Linked DNA regions of Homo sapiens. The protein of the gene in region 1 interacts with the protein of each later gene in a pairwise test. Each region holds a gene or a part of one and is shown on either strand. Other genes may lie near its edges. The genes, in order: RDH11 and ROBO2.

Region 1 (3,826 bases):
CCAGTCCTTAGCCAGAGAAAATGTAATTACCATTTTAGATCTCCTCGCTAGACCACCTCTCATCAGAATGCTTTGTTTGATATATAATGCATACATTTGGTCTTTATATTCCCCTATTTATATAATTTAATATTAGTGCCTGCCTGACACCCATGTATATCCATCTTCTTCAAGTAAGTCCATAAGGCCCATTCTACAGAGCCTTGGACAATGTCATATAGCTGAGATCCTGCTATTCACATTGGTCAGAGATGCCTGGAGTAGTAAAAAAAAAAAAGAAATGCTTATTTCTGGACTCCTTGAAGTTATACTGTTAGTAAACTCATATGAGAAGTAAAGCCAGCTTCGAAAACAACAAAAGGAAAAGGCGACACAGAAAAGAAATGGTAAAACCAAGGTACGAGGTGTCTTGGTCCATTTTGTGGTACTGTAACAGAATACGACAAACTGGGTAACTATAATGAGCATACAGAAACTGGCTTATGATTATGGAAGCTGAGAAGTCCAAGATCAAGGGGCTGGCATCTGATGAAGGCCTTCTTGCTGTGTAATAACAAGATGGAAGGCATGACATGGGCAAGAGAGGGAAGGGGACACAAGTCATCCTTTAATAAGGAACCACTCCCAAGATAATGAACCCGTTCCAGAGATAATGGCATTAAACCATTCATGAGGGCTGCCCTTGTGACCTAATTTACCTCTTAAAGGCCCTGCCTCTCTATACTGTTGTATTGAGGCTTAAGTTTCCAACATATGAACCTTGAGGGACACATTCAAATCATAGCAAAGTGTTTCATATACCCTCTCTTCATTGCTGTAATTAATTCCAAGTTTTTTTTTTTTTTTTGGAGGCGGAGTCTCACTCTGTCGCCCAGGCTGGAGTGCAGTGATGCGATCTCAGCTCACTGCAACCTCCGCCTCCCAGGTTTGAGCAATTCTCCTGCCTCAGCCTCCAGAGTAGCTGGGATTATAGGCGCCTGCCACCATGACTGGCTAATTTTTGTATTTTTAGTAGAGACAGGGTTTTGCCATGTTGGCCAGGCTGGTCTCGAACTCCTGACCTCAAGTGATCCACCTGCCTCGGCCTCCCAAAGTGCTGGGATTACAGGCATGAGCCACTGCACCCAGCCTGTAATTCCAAGTTTTATAATTTTATAATTCCGATGCAGAAAATTTTCTTAAGGACAATTCTGACTCATTTTTGTATTCTCTGGATCTGGTATACATCTGGTAAGCATTCAGTCAAAGTTTTAAAAAAAATGATTGAATGTATTACAATCTTTAGTCATGTGAGGAAACAATTTTTAAAAGTATACTATTTCAAGAAAATTGCTTCCTCAGTATCTAAGCAAATTCTGAAGGTGAAAGAGTTGACAAGTCTGAATTAACTATATATGCAAACTCTTAACACTATGTCAAGTAAGACAGTGGGATTCAAAGTGTGCACCACAAACCAGCAGCAGGAGCATCAACTGGGAGCTTGTTAGAAATTCTCCAGCCCTACTCCAGACATACTGAATGAGAATCTCTAGGGTTGTGGTCCAGGAATCTATTTTCAACTAGTTTTCCAGATGACTCTTGAACACACTAAAGTTTGAGAAATACCATTTCAAAATATCGTCACGTTTACAAAACAAGTCTTATCAGTACTTCTGTTTAAGAAGACTCACCAGTATGACCAGTACAACTTGCCATTTCCTAGTGAAAAGATCATCAGTGAGAACCACAAGGCTCTGTATCTCTCTGGAAATGACTCAGCCTTTGTAAGCCTCTGCATCCTCCACTGCACTGTGCCTTATACTCTTCATAAGGTTACAGTTAAGAGCAAAGAACACAGTTGACATGAAGGTTCCTTGTAGGCTATAAAAACTAATCAAATACTACAGCAAGAGCTTTCTGGTTGTTTTTTTTAGACAGGGTCTCACTGTTGCCCAGGCTGGAGTGCAGTGGTGTGATCGCAGCTCACTACAACCTCCCCAGGCTCAGGTGATCCTCCTATCTCAGCCTCCCAAGTAGCCAGGACCACAGGGACACGCCACCACGCCTGGCTAATTTTTGCATTTTTTATAGAGATGGGGTCTCATTATGTTGCCTAGGCTGGTCTTGAACTCCTGGGCTCAAGTAGTTTGCCCACCTCAGCCTCCCAAAGTGCAGGGATTACAGGCGTGAGCCGCCGCGCCCAGCCAAGTAAGAGCTAGTTAAGTGTGCCTATGGCATCAGCATGGTCACAGTATTGACATTTCCAGGGGGATTTTGCTAAGAATTAGTATAGGTAAAAGATAAACTAATTTCAAAACTTACTACAATGCTATAGTAATCAAGATAGTGTGATACTGGCATAAGGACAGACATACAAATGAACGGAACAGAAAAGTGAAACATAAACCCTTATATTTATGGTCAATTGATTTTTGACAAGCTTACTGTTATACTCCAATTGTGTTCCCCCAAAATTAATATGTTGAATCCCTAACCCCCAGTGTGACTGTATTTAGAGAGAGGGCCTTTAAGGAGGTAACTAAGGTTAAATGAGGTCATCAGGGCGGGGCCCTAATCCAACAGGGCCTTATAAAAAGAGGAAGAGACACCAGGAGTGTGTGTACATAGAGGAAAGGCCATGCGAGGGCTCAGAGAGAAGGCATCCATTTGGAAGTCAGGAAGGCAGGCCTCACCAGAGACCAACCAGGCCAGCACCTTGATCTTGGACTTTCAGTCTCCAGAAGTGTGAGAAAATAAATTTATATTGTTTAAGCCACCCAGTCTGTGGGATTCTGCTATGGCAGCCTTAACAGACTAATACAGATACCAAGACAATTCAATGGGTAGAAAACTGTCTTTTCAACAAATGGTGCTAAGGCACTGGATATCCACATGCAAAAGAATGAAGGTTGACCCCTACCTCATATCATATACAAAAATTAGTTCAAGGCCGGGTGTGGTGGCTCATGCCTATAATCCCAGCACTTTGGGAGGCCGAGGAGGGGGATCACTTGAAGTCAGGAGTTGGAGACCAGCCTGACCTACGTGGCAAAACCCCATCTCTACTAAAAATACAAAAATTAGCCAGGCATGGTGGTGTGCACCTGTAGTCCCAGCTACTCGGGAGGCTGAGACAGGAGAATTGCTTGAACCCAGGAGGCGGAGGTTGCAGTGAGCAGCCTGGGTCACAGAGCAAGATTCCGTCTCAAAAAAATAATAATTATAAAATAAAATAAAAATAGTTCAAAACAGATCACAGACCTATGTAATGCTACAACTATAAGACTATTAGAAGAAAACATAGGGGTTGCTATAGTTTGAATGTATCCCTTAAAAAATCACATGTTGGAAACTTAGTCCCTCTGCCTTCATGAACAGATTAATTAATAAAAGCTTTGCCCTCATACCTGGATTAATGTCACTATCATGGGAGTGGGTTTGTTCTTGCTTGCCCTCTCACCATGTGATGCCCTCTGCCATATTATGACACAGCAAGAAGGCCCTAACCAAATGCCAGGCACCATGTTCTTAGACTTCTCAGCCTCCGGAACCATGAGCTAAGTAAATTTCTTTAGAAATTACCCAGTCTGTGGTATTCTGTTTAGTAACAGAAAACTGTCTTTACTAAAGACAGTAGTAAATCTTTGTGACCTTGGGTAAGGCAATGATTTCTTAGATATGACTGCACAAGTGACAAAAAATAGATAAACTGGACTTCATCAAAATTTAAGTTTTACATTTCAAAAGATACCATTAAGAAAGTTAAAAGACAACCCACAGAATGAGAGAATATTTGCAAATTATATATCTGACAAGGAACTCGCATCTAGACTATTAAGAACTCTTG
Region 2 (3,826 bases), on another chromosome or scaffold:
TAGTCCTGATTTCTAATCCCTTCAGTGGTTGTTGTCTTCTAAGTCTTCCTCAGTTGCCTCGTAAAACTTTACAAAGATAGTACCTCAGTTGAACTTGTCACTTTTAGCAGAGATCTCAGCAATAGTAAATATAAATCATAGAATGATAGCATCTCGGAGCCATTATGAATATTTGCAGCTATATTGCACAACTCTCTTATTGGTTGGGCACATGGAGAACTGAAGCTTAGAGATTTTATGTGCCTTGTCACAGATCCCATTGCTACTTAGTGGTAGAGCAGAAACTAGACTCCAGGGATGCTTCATCTCTGTACCAGGCTTCTGCCTATGAGAGACTGTTTCTGGATTCTTAGCCCTGGAACTCCTTAACAAGAATTCCAGGCTCTTGTTACTGAAAATGACCAGCTATTTTCTGAAGAGTCCATGAGAAAATGAGCTTGAATATGTTTAGGTTATTCCTTTGATTCAACACATGCATATTGACAACATAACTTGCTTGGCTCTGTGAAGAACATGCTGACCTGTGAAAATATTCCCACATTCAAGGAAGTCATGACTTGGTAGGGAAGGTACCAAATGTTCAAGTCACTAGAATAAAAAAAGTAGTGTCTGATAAGTAAGAAGTTTGAAGGTGTACACAGTATAGTCTTGAGAACTCAGAGAAGGAATAGGTGATTTCCAGCTGGTACAATCTGGGAAGGGTCAACACCAAATGGGTCTCTTAACCTGGACCTTAGAGGAAGAGTGGGATTTTGGTGGGCAAAAAGATTGGAAATTGAATTCCAGGAAAAGAAGTAACCAGAAAAATGGCATGAAGATGACAAAGGGGTGCTAAGGAAATGGCAAGAAGTCTAGATTGATTGCAACATAGTTTGCCTGTAAGGAAGAAGGATAAGATGGTTATTGAAAGACTACTGAGCAATCACTACTGAATGAGTATGAACAAGTAATTTAACCTTTTTATGCCTCAGTGTCCTTACCTGTAAAATGGGCATGGTAATAATGTATATCTCATACAGTTATAATGAGAAATAAAATAGTTTTAAAAATATAACGATATATAGGCAGGGCATGGTGGCTCACGCCTGTAATCCCAGCACTTTGGGAGGGTGAGGTGTGTGGATCACCTGAGGTCAGGAGTTCAAGACCAGCCTGGCCAACATGGTGAAACCCCCTCTCTATTTAAAAAAAATACAAAAATTGGCTGAGCATGGTGGCAGGTGCCTGTAATCCCAGCTACTCAGGAGGCTGAGGCAGGAGAATCATTTGAACCCAGGAGGTGGAGGTTGCAGTGCCAAAATTGTGCCATTATACTCCAGCCTAGGCAACGGGCAAAACTCCGTCTCAAAAAAATATATATAATGATATATATAAATAAATAAATATATATATAAAATAAAGATGTATATAAAGATATATATGGGCTGGGCGCGGTGGCTCACGCCTGTAATCCCAGCACTTTGGGAGGCTGAGGCAGGTGGATCACGAGGTCAGGAGGTCGAGACTATCCTGGCTAATACGGCGAAACCCTGTCTCTACTAAAAATACAAAAAAATAATTAGCCGGGTGTGGTGGCGGGCGCCTGTAGTCCCAGCTACTTGGGAGGCTGAGGCAGGAGAATGGCTTGAACCTGGGAGGTGGAACTGGCAGTGAGCCGAGATCGCGCCACTGCACTCCAGCCTCGGCGACAGAGTGAGACTCCGTCTCAAAAAAAAAGATATATATGATGCCATGAACAGTGTACTTTATAAATGCCACTCAAGCATAACTTATTGTTATAATTAGTAGTATTTTTATTAGATTATTATTCCCTGCCTAGTATGAACAAGGAAAATAACTAGAAGAGGACTTTGCTATCAGACTAATTATGGACTACAATTGGGGTGCATGTTAGGACAATTTTAATAAGATTTTTCAGCTGTGAGTCTTCAGGTGACTGATTAAGAATTTTTGTTGCCTCTTAAGGGAACTTATCGGTGGCCTCGCCTACACAGCTGTGACAGTTGTGCTATGACATGTGTGTTTCCATTGCATCATAAGCTGATTACAAAACACATGTGATTCCCAAGTGAAAGGTGCGACGAATGAAGATAGTAAACAAGAGAGGAATCACACAAATGGCAATTTGTTAGCAAGTAGACCATGCTTGTGTAAGCCTGCATTTTGGTTCATGTTGGCTGATTTACATTTCATCCTGGATAATTTTTACCTGGTGCTTTGATATAACGTACTGTGGAGATAAATCTTGTGTAAGACAAACTAAATAAACACTTTGAGAACCGAAGACCTAAGTAAAAATTAACATTTGGTATCCACTCACTAATTCGTTTTCTAGATAGCCCCCTTAGCTTCCCTTCATTTAGTATAAGACATTGAATCTAATAACTTTTTATAATTATCCATTAGTTACATTTGCACAATGAGTAGTTATGCATATCAGAAAGGATAGCCTGAATAAAACAATATCATTACTATTGTGGAAGTGACATACCTTTGGTGACCAGATCTCTGGACTGCACTGTTAGCTTCCCTAGTGGATTGTTAATTGTTCTAATTGCCTTAGAACCTTACCAAAAATGGTTTCATTTGACTGTGTAATTTCCAAGGTCTCCATGAACCTTAGGTTTTATTATCCCAAGTACTTCTGTTTAATGTTCCAACATTTATTGTTATATCTGAGAATTTTTAAAGAAGAAAATTTAGCCTGGGCTCGGCGCAGTGGCTCACCCCTGCAATCCTAACAATTTGGGAGGCTGAAGCTGAAGGATCGCTTGAGCCTAGGTGTTTGAGACCAGCCTGGGCAACATAGTGAAACCCTGTCTCTACAAAAAAGAAAAAAAGTTAGCTGGGCATGGTGGTGTCCACTTGTGGTCTCAGATACTTGGGAGGCTGAGATGAGAGGATTCCTTGAGCCCAGGAGGTTGAGGCTGCAGCGAGCCATGATTACACCACTGCACTTTTGCCTGGGTGACAGAGGCCCCGTCTCCACACACACACTCACACAAATTTAGGCTTGAAAAGAATTATCCAAAACCATAAACATCCATCTTTAAAAACAATAACAGTCTATTGTCTAATATGCATGTAGCATATCTGTGTTTTGGTGTGGGTTCAATGATATGGCTATGGATATGCATGACAGCCAAAATTAACTAGTCTTATGATTCACATCCACTCTCATTCATTAATGACCAGTGGTACTTAGGCTTTCCTTATCAATAAATGGAATTTTAAAAATTTAATACTAAGGAGACAATAGTCTTAGGTCAATGTGCTTAGTTTCTGGCCACTATAACTAGAACCATATGCAACATGGAAATTTTAGCTCAGGAGAGGGGGTTAACAGCCACTTTTTAATTTCTGTTGTAAGGATTGATGTGGGATCTCTTTCCCTAGACTTTGGTTCCAAGCTTTTTGGAAATGAGCTGGAGAACATGGAATATAACTCAACTATCCCACTGAAAGGCTTTTCAAGTTTAAGCAAGGAACACCCAGTTGAAACCAGACTGGAATTTAAGGGATTTGGACCAAACCTCTGCAGCACTTATAACCAATTAAAATGTTCATAAGTGTGATTCAAAAAGGGAGAATTTTGACTTTCCAAAAAACTTGAGTTAAGAGTTATTCATTATAAAGGAAAGTTTATAAGTTTTTATAAATCAAGGTTAGAGTCGTACTTAGAAGTTTTATAATACGTATATTTCCAAATACTAGCAAATGCTAGAATATGATTAAACTTATTTAGATATATCCGATTATTATAAAATATAGATTTCAGGGTTAGAGTAAATTAGGGGAAATTTAGAATGAATCTAGCAACAGGCAC

What was found.
Region 2: the proteins of RDH11 (region 1) and ROBO2 interact in a two-hybrid assay, tested with the Homo sapiens proteins (one large-scale study listed by BioGRID and IntAct).

Annotation. Positions count from the first base shown.
Region 1 is NC_000014.9:67,678,574-67,682,399, forward strand, and holds part of RDH11 (retinol dehydrogenase 11), read right to left. Parts: intron 1-3,826. UniProt on the Homo sapiens protein: Retinol dehydrogenase with a clear preference for NADP. Displays high activity towards 9-cis, 11-cis and all-trans-retinol, and to a lesser extent on 13-cis-retinol.
Region 2 is NC_000003.12:77,046,340-77,050,165, forward strand, and holds part of ROBO2 (roundabout homolog 2 isoform 23 precursor), read left to right. Parts: intron 1-3,826. UniProt on the Homo sapiens protein: Receptor for SLIT2, and probably SLIT1, which are thought to act as molecular guidance cue in cellular migration, including axonal navigation at the ventral midline of the neural tube and projection of axons to different regions during neuronal development.